Homo sapiens: one gene and its partner. The protein of the gene in region 1 purifies or fractionates together with the protein of each later gene. This does not show direct contact. Each region holds a gene or a part of one and is shown on either strand. Other genes may lie near its edges.

Region 1 (4,693 bases):
TATTGTTCATACCATAGAATTAAGACAAGGTGTTAGTTGGATCATTTAAATGCATAGTACTGTTTGCTATAATTGCTCTAATGGCCCGTCTCCTCAATATGGACTAGAGTATTTACTCCCTGGGGAGACTGGTGTATTTGTTTTGGATGTCAGTGCCTACCCACCCCACCTCCTGCGTAGGGCCTTTTCAGGTTTTTAAATTTTTCCATGATTTCTTGGCTGATCAAAACCCTTGATTAGGCCAGGCACAGTAGCTCATGGCTGTAATCCCAACACTTCGGGAGGCTGAGTTCGGGGAATTGCTCGAGGCCAGGAGTTCAAGATCAGTCTGGGCAACTTAGTGAGACCCTGCCTGTCTCTACAAAAAATTAAAATTCGCCAGGTGTGGTAGTGCATGCCTGTAGTACCAACTACTCCGGAGGCTGAGGCGGGAGGGTCACTTGAGCCTGGGAAGTTGCAACTCCAATGAACCGTGATCATGCCACTGCACTCCAGCCTAGGTGACAGAGTGAGATGCTGTCTCTAAAACAAAAAACAAAGTGAAACTCTTGATTGGCATAATTTTGTTTCTCTATCAGCTTTATTTTTAAAAAAATTACATAAGTAAAACATGTCTCTTTAGCTATTATCTCTTAAATCAGATTACCTTCTGTAATAATTCTATGGGAATTATTCTACGGGAGCACAGTCATTCACGCTTGTAACCCCAGCACTTTGGGATGCCAAGGTGGGAGGACTGCTTGAGCCCAGGACTTTGCAACCAGCCTGAGCAACATAGACCCCGTCTCTACAATAATAATAATAATAATAAAAATAAAAAAATTAACCGGGCATGATGGTGTGTGCCTGTAGTCCATGCTACTTGGGAGGCTGAAGTGGGAAGATCCCTTGAGCCAAGGAGGTAGAGGCTGCAAGTGAGCCATGATAGCACCACCGCATTCAAGCCTGGGCAAGAGTGAGGCCCTGTCTCAATAAAAACCCGCAAAAAACTTTGGGAGCATCGTACGGTTGCCAGTGAATAAGGTTATAAGATAAAAAACAGGATGCTCAATTAAATTCAGCTAAACAAGCGCTGTATATTTTTAGTGTAAGTATATCCAAAATATTAATGAGGTATACTTACACTAAAACAAATATTCATTGTTTACCTGAAATGCAAATTTAAATAGGCATCCTGTATTTTCATTTGCTAAACCTGGCAATCCTACCAGCACTTTAACATGAAGCCATGAGGGTTGCCTGGATTCATGCTGGTAGGTAAGCACCAATCCATTCGGTTGCCTCAGACAGGACAGAAACCATTCCCTCTAAAAAAATCGTTTACTTTGACGATAGGTAGCAACGAAGCACGGAAGAATCTTGACCCTTTGAGGAACCCGTAACTGACGCAAGTGCCATAAATGCTACTTTGATTGATTCTCCGCCCCCTCCATTCTTCTCTTCCTGCAATTGCTCTATCACTTCTTCCCTCTCAAGTCCCGCCCTTTCAGCTACCTCCAACTGCTGAGGAACCGGTTGCCTAAAAGGAGCCGGCAAAAGCGCCTACGTGGAGTCCAGAGGAGCGGAAGTAGTCAGATTTGACTGAGAGCCGTAAAGCGCGGCTGGCTCTCGTTTTCCGGATAACGACTACAGCTCCGACTGTCAGTGCCGGCCTTCCTCGTGTGAGGGGATCTGCCGGACCCCTGCAAATTCAATTTCTTTCCCATTCCGGGCCCTTCCCTATCGTCGCCCCCTTCACCTTGGATCATGTTCAAGAAGTAAGGACATGCTGTGGCCTCCATCGGCTGCTCACAAAGGCGGTGGGGTGGGGGTGGGGAAGAGGGCGAGAGCTAAGATCCTCTTTCTCTCTCCCCCGCCCCTGCCATCCTGACTCCCTAAGGTTTTCTATAGTACTATGCTCTCACTCCCAACTTGAACACTTCTTTAAGCTTTCCATCCGTAGTCCTTAATTGGGTTTCAGTCCCTCCACTCCCATTGTTTTTTCTCCTTACCCCTCTTTCTCTTTTGCCCCCTCCCCCAATTCTGTCTCCATTCCTAGGGTTCTACCAATCACATCCGTGCACTGTGATTTAGAGGCATATTCTCTGTAGCTGAGAGGGGAGCCCTGCGCTCACTGCCATATGTTTATTAGTTATGAACTGAATAAAGGAAGGCTTGACTTCCTGGGTCATGGGAGTGAAGGAGTCTGGGTGACAGGAAGCAAGCGGCCTGTCATGCCTATTGCCTAGCTGCCAGATTAACCTTGCCTTGAAAATAACGATTGCCCCATAGGCTATTCAGTGTAAGGAAGACAAAAATTCCTTGGGAACCTACTAGTGGGTTTGCCTTCCAGATTTGGTAGACGCAAAAAGCAAAGGGGGAACATGGGCAAAGGAAGGTGGGTTTTGTGCATGAAATTTTGAGCAAAAACGAATAGGGATCTTAGAAATCATTATTATCATCACTTAAAAAAAATCTCAGCAGATTACATAGCCTAGCAGGGGCCGATTTTCTATGTTATGCTTGGGTTGGTCTTTTGTATCTCAAGAATTGAGGGTTTTGTTTTCTGATCTCAGGTTTTATTATTGGTGGGAGCCTGTGTTTCTTCCTGGGTAGAATTGAATAAGATTTTCCAGGAAAGGCATTTGTGTAGCTAATTACAGATTATGGTGCAAAGTATGTCTCATATTCCTCCCCCTAACCCCAGCTAATTGCTGTATACTTGACAGTTTATTTCAATATTGTATTAAGACATTGGTTTTGTGCTGGACAGAGTAAAAGGGAGATGGTATTTTTTTTTAAAAGAACAATTTATTTCATAATTAAGTATCTAAATACTTGGTTGGGAATAAATGACTAATTAGAACAGTACCTTTAGGTATTCTGATACCTCTACTTAGAAATGCCTTTTCTTTTCTTGCAAAAATTACTTGGCAGATTTGATGAAAAAGAAAATGTGTCCAACTGCATCCAGTTGAAAACTTCAGTTATTAAGGGTATTAAGAATCAATTGATAGAGCAATTTCCAGGTATTGAACCATGGCTTAATCAAATCATGCCTAAGAAAGATCCTGTCAAAATAGTCCGATGGTAAGTCTTTGTTTTTGTCTGTGTAAAGCTCGGTATAGCTGAATATTTAATGATTAGATTGCACTCATACTAAATGGAATTATTTTCAGATTAACTATTGATAGATTAATAATGGGGTAGACACAGAATAACTCTAAAACTCCAATATTTGTATTTTCAAAGATTTTCTATGTCCCTGAAAAAATGTGGCTTTGTGTATTGATTGTTCTAGTAAAGAGTTAAATGTTTTAGTTCAGAGTTGGATTTAATTTATTTCAGTTTGTTGTTTAGAGAATTGTTTTATTGAATTACCTAACAATGGAATTAATAAAATGTGAAATAAAATTGGTTGTAGCAGGTAATATTTTTCTTTTTTTCTCTACTGGACTTGCATGATAGGAAAAACAATGTAAACAATATTTTTTGGCCAGGATTTTTACTGACTTTTTAAGAAAGTTTATCACTGTATATGCGTGTTTTATATTGTGAATTTTTGAAAGAAAATATCTAACTTGGTACTTTGTGACATTTGTCTTACAGCCATGAACATATAGAAATCCTTACAGTAAATGGAGAATTACTCTTTTTTAGACAAAGAGAAGGGCCTTTTTATCCAACCCTAAGATTACTTCACAAATGTAAGGTTTTTTTATTTTTATTTTTTGAAATTTTACTCCTATTGCAATATTCAAATGTAAAGTCTTGTAAGAAATATGCATTTAATCAGATAAGACACTGCTGGGGGAGAAAAACAGAAATATGCATTTGGGAATACTGAAAGACACAAAAAGAGTTTAGAGTGACTTCTGATAATTGACTCATTATTTATTAGTACTAGGTAATAATGGATGTAAAACTAAAATGAATGCCCATCTTGTGGTAAATCTGAAAAATGCAGATTCTCTCATGCATTCCAGAAAGCCCAAGAAAGATCATTTATTAATTCATTCAACAAATATTTATTGCCGGGCACGGAGGCTCACGCCTGTAATCCCAGCACTTTGGGAGGCCAAGGCGGGTGGATCACCTGAGATCAGGAGTTCGAGACCAGCCTGGCCAACATGGTGAAACCCCGTCTCTACTAAACATACAAAAGTTAGCCGGGCGTGGTCACAGGTGCCTGTAATCCCAGCTACTCGGGAGGCTGAGGCAGGAGAATCACTTCAACCCGCGAGGCGGAGGTTGCAGTGAGCAGAGATCACGCCATTGCACTCTAGCCTGGGGAACAAGAGCGAGACTTAGTCTCAAAAAAAAAAAAAAAAAAAAAAAGACAAATATTTATTGAACTTACTATGTGCTAGGCATTCAGCTAGGTGCTGAGAATACAATGGGAAGCAAAGACATTGTCTCTGTCCTTAAGAAACTAATAGTCTAGTTTGGAGAATAAACAACAATTAGATAATTACGCAAATATGTATTTACAAACTGTGATAAGCATTGTGAGCATTTTCATCTTTTATATTTGTATCTATTTGCCTAATAGAGAAAAGTCTATATATGGGAAAGCATTGACTAAGTGTCCTTCCGTCCAGGTATTTCCTGTGATGTGTGTAAATGCATTTTTTTTTAAAATTGGGCTCTCTGTTACATAGTTTTTAAAAATTGATACGTCATAGCTGTACATTGTCTGCTGTTGTGGTGCCTG
Region 2 (3,570 bases), about 100 Mb from region 1:
GGCGGGTATTATAGGACTCGCCTCACAGGATCTTGCCCCTTTGAGATACTCCCATTTGACTGGCACAGTTAGCAGGACACGCATGACAGCCCATGACAGAGTTAGTGTTTGGGGAAAATGGAATGCACCTTGGGCCAGGAAAAAAAAAATATAAGTACACCTATAAATGTATATGTGGGGGCTGTTGTGGTTAGAGTCATCATAGTCTAGGCCAGGGGTTGACAGACTTTCTGTAAGGTCAGAGAGTAAATATCTTAGGCTTATGAGCCATGCAGTTCCTGCGGCAACTACTCAATTCTGCTGTTGTAGCAGGAAAGCAACCATAGACAATATGTAAGTGAACAAGCATGGCTGTGTTCCAATAAAATTTTATTTACAAAAACAGTTTGCTGATCCCTGGTCTAGGCCACTCATAGAAGAGCAGATTTCCTTGGATTTGTATAAAATAAAATTAAAATAAAATAAAACATAAAATAAAATAAAATAAAATAGTATTTGATTTCTTTGTAGGGAGATGCAAGAGACAGGCTTAGTGTCCAAGGGCAGCTTATTTTTCCATTGCTCTATTATGCACTATTAGAGAGAATACCAGCCTGGATAGCTTCAGTAAATTTATGCTCAGTGGCAGATAGTGCCTGGATTGCCCTAGGCATTATGGCAGGCCTTGACTTGTATAAGCTGTTCTTTAGCAGAGACAGCAGCTTTTGGAAGACTTGTAAAGTGTTCATTGCTTTCCTGTGAGGTCTCTTCATGTTTATCAGGGAAGATGCAAAGCTGTGTCTATTTAGTTTTGCCTCAAACATGGAGACCCTTTGGAGCAAGCCAAAATGGTGCAAAGGTTAGCTGGAGATATTGAAAGACTTGTATTATTCAGTTCCTGGTGTTGCTAATATTTATATTCTTTTCTTTTAAGCCTCTGAAATAATTGAAGGCAAGATGAAGGAACTATCTGAAGAAATCACTACACTCTTAGAGAATCCCTCTGTTCTCCAGCAAACATGGGATGTAAAGCCTCACAGGGAATCTGATAATACATACTTCTGTCAACCAGAACCAGAGGGGTAGTTTTCTTTTCCCTCCAGAGGCAGCCTTTGGTACTTAAAATATCTGTAGCTGATTAAATTTTTCCCAACAACCTCACTGGGGAGAAAGTGTGTTCATGTTTTGTCCAGCGGATCAGGATGTTAGGATGACGAGCAAGAGTCCAGGTCACTGTGCCTTTGCTGTGTTGTATGGAAAGGATGGCAGGGAACATGCTGTAAGTAATTTTGAGTAAGAAAATGAGTCACTGTGTTACCTGGAACTCAGCCACAGATTTGTGTGTGGTCCAAGATCATTGCAGTTTCTCACCCTGTTTATTTCCTGGTAAAAGTAAAATTGAATAGGTCCAAGACTTGGGGGTGGCAAGTAAGGCTTTGCCTCAGGCACAAAATTTAAGGGGGCTCCAAAAAACTCAGGAATCAAGATCAGCAATACAGTCTGAGTATCCCTTATGTGAAATGCTTGGGGCTAGAAGTGTTTTGAATTTCAGATTTTGGAATATTTGCATATACATGCGATATCTTGGGGATGAGACTCAAGACTAAACATGAAATTCATTTATGCTTCATATACACCTTATATACATAGCCTAAAGGTAATTTGATACAATATTTTAAATAATTTTGTGCATGAAACAAAGTTTCGACTGCATTTTGACTGTGATTTCTGGCATGAGATCAGTTATGGAATTTTCCACTTCTAGCGTCATGTTGGCATTCAGAAATTTTGAAATTTTGGAGCATTTTGGATTTTCAGATTAGGGATGCTCAACCTGTATATATATTTTTTAATCGACGTGAAATTCACGTAACATAGAATTAACCATTTTGAAGTGAACAATTTGGTTGCATTCACTGATGTTGAGCAACCACCACCTTTAACTATTTCCAAAACATTTTCATCACTCCAAAATAAATGCCTGTACACACTAGCAGTCACTCCCTATCTTCCCCTCCACCTGTCCGCTGGCAACCACTGATCTCCTTTTTATTTCTGTGGCTTTTTCTATTCTGGATATTTCATATAAGTGGAATTACACAATATATGTGGTCTTTTGTGTCTGGCTTCTTCTGAGACAGTAGGAAGGGGGGCTTGGCTTTGGCTCACCCCCACTAGAGCATTTTTTCATGCATTCCCACTGATCACAAAACCCATACTACTACCTCATTGACACCATACCTGCTAACCTCGAGGCTTTAGTCATACAAAGAAAATGGCCTTTCTGTATTGTTCTTCTGTGCTCTCATAATGCTTAACCATGTCTTTTACTTAAACAATTCCAGGAACTGGCCTTAGGAGATCCAAATAGGGAACCAAGATTGCAGAGTGTCCCATCTTGGGAGGGAATGCTGAATAATTAATTGATTTACAGCCTTGTTGCCGCTGGCCAGACCACCAGGTGGCCCATTACTCGAGATGATCATCACAACCAGATGATGCTAACCTATATCCTCTACCCTTCGCGTGCTTTGTCTGGGAAGTCTTTTGGCCCCATGTCAGTTTCTATTGCATTGAGAGCCCAAGAGCCCCTGGTCAGTCAGGCTTCCATTTAGCATGGCGTTTGCAAGGTTTACCCATGTTGTAGCATGTGTCAGAATTTCATTCCTTTCTATGGCTGAATAAAATTCCATTGTATGAATATACCACAATTTGTTTCACCTTTTGGTTATTGTGACTAATACTATGAACAATCACATGCAAATGTTTGTTGGAATGCCTGTTTTTAATTCTTTTGGGGTGTATGCCTAGGAGTGGAATTGCTGTGTCATATGTAATTCTCTTTAACTTCTGAAGAAGGATCAGTAATATTTTAATGTAGTATTATTTTAAAAAATCAAAATTAGGCCAGGTGCGGTGGCTCACACCTGTAATCCCAGCACTTTGGGAGGCCAAGGCGGGCGGATCATGAAGTCAGGAATTCGAGACCAGCCTGGCCAACATGGTGAAACCCCGTCTCTACCTAAAATACAAAAATTAGCTGGGCATGGTGGCCCGTGCCTGTAATCCCAGCTACTTGGGAGGATGAAGCAGGAGAATTGCTTGAGCCCGGGAGGCGGAGGTTGCAGTGAGCTGAGATTGCACCATTGCACTCCAGCCTGAGCGACAAGAGCAAGACTCCGTCTCAAAAAAAAAAAAAAAAAAAATCAAAATGAAATAATTCACATTTGAACACAAAATCAAATTTTCAAATAAAGACAGGATCCAGCTCTGCACCTCCTTCACCTCCCCCAGTCCTTGCCCCATTCTCTGACGTTCTTATCTAGTATGTTTTCTACTTTTTCCTGTTGAATGTGCTTGAGATGACTTAGTTGTTGCCTACATTTAAGCTTTCTAATACTAATTTAAATATTTTAATTGTTCAGTTAATTTTTTTGTGGTGGTTTTGCTCCCCCCCCAACTTTTTTTTAATGCCATAAGGTATTATGGCCTTATTTTGTAAGATGCCACAGAAAATTCATCTACCAAGCACATACAAAAATGAAATGAGTAATTCTGGTAAACAAAAAAATTAAAGAGCTTTAGGGCCCT

What was found.
Region 2: the proteins of MCTS1 (region 1) and CTPS2 purify together in Homo sapiens (co-immunoprecipitation; one large-scale study listed by IntAct). This does not show direct contact.

Annotation. Positions count from the first base shown.
Region 1 is NC_000023.11:120,602,491-120,607,183, forward strand, and holds the start of MCTS1 (malignant T-cell-amplified sequence 1), read left to right. Parts: upstream 1-1,610; 5' UTR 1,611-1,746; coding exon 1,747-1,757; intron 1,758-2,208; exon of another isoform or gene 2,209-2,363; coding exon of another isoform or gene 2,364-2,377; intron 2,378-2,916; coding exon 2,917-3,069; intron 3,070-3,588; coding exon 3,589-3,686; intron 3,687-4,693. UniProt on the Homo sapiens protein: Translation regulator forming a complex with DENR to promote translation reinitiation.
Region 2 is NC_000023.11:16,587,119-16,590,688, reverse strand, and holds the end of CTPS2 (CTP synthase 2), read left to right. Parts: intron 1-913; 3' UTR 914-2,690; downstream 2,691-3,570. UniProt on the Homo sapiens protein: Catalyzes the ATP-dependent amination of UTP to CTP with either L-glutamine or ammonia as the source of nitrogen. Constitutes the rate-limiting enzyme in the synthesis of cytosine nucleotides.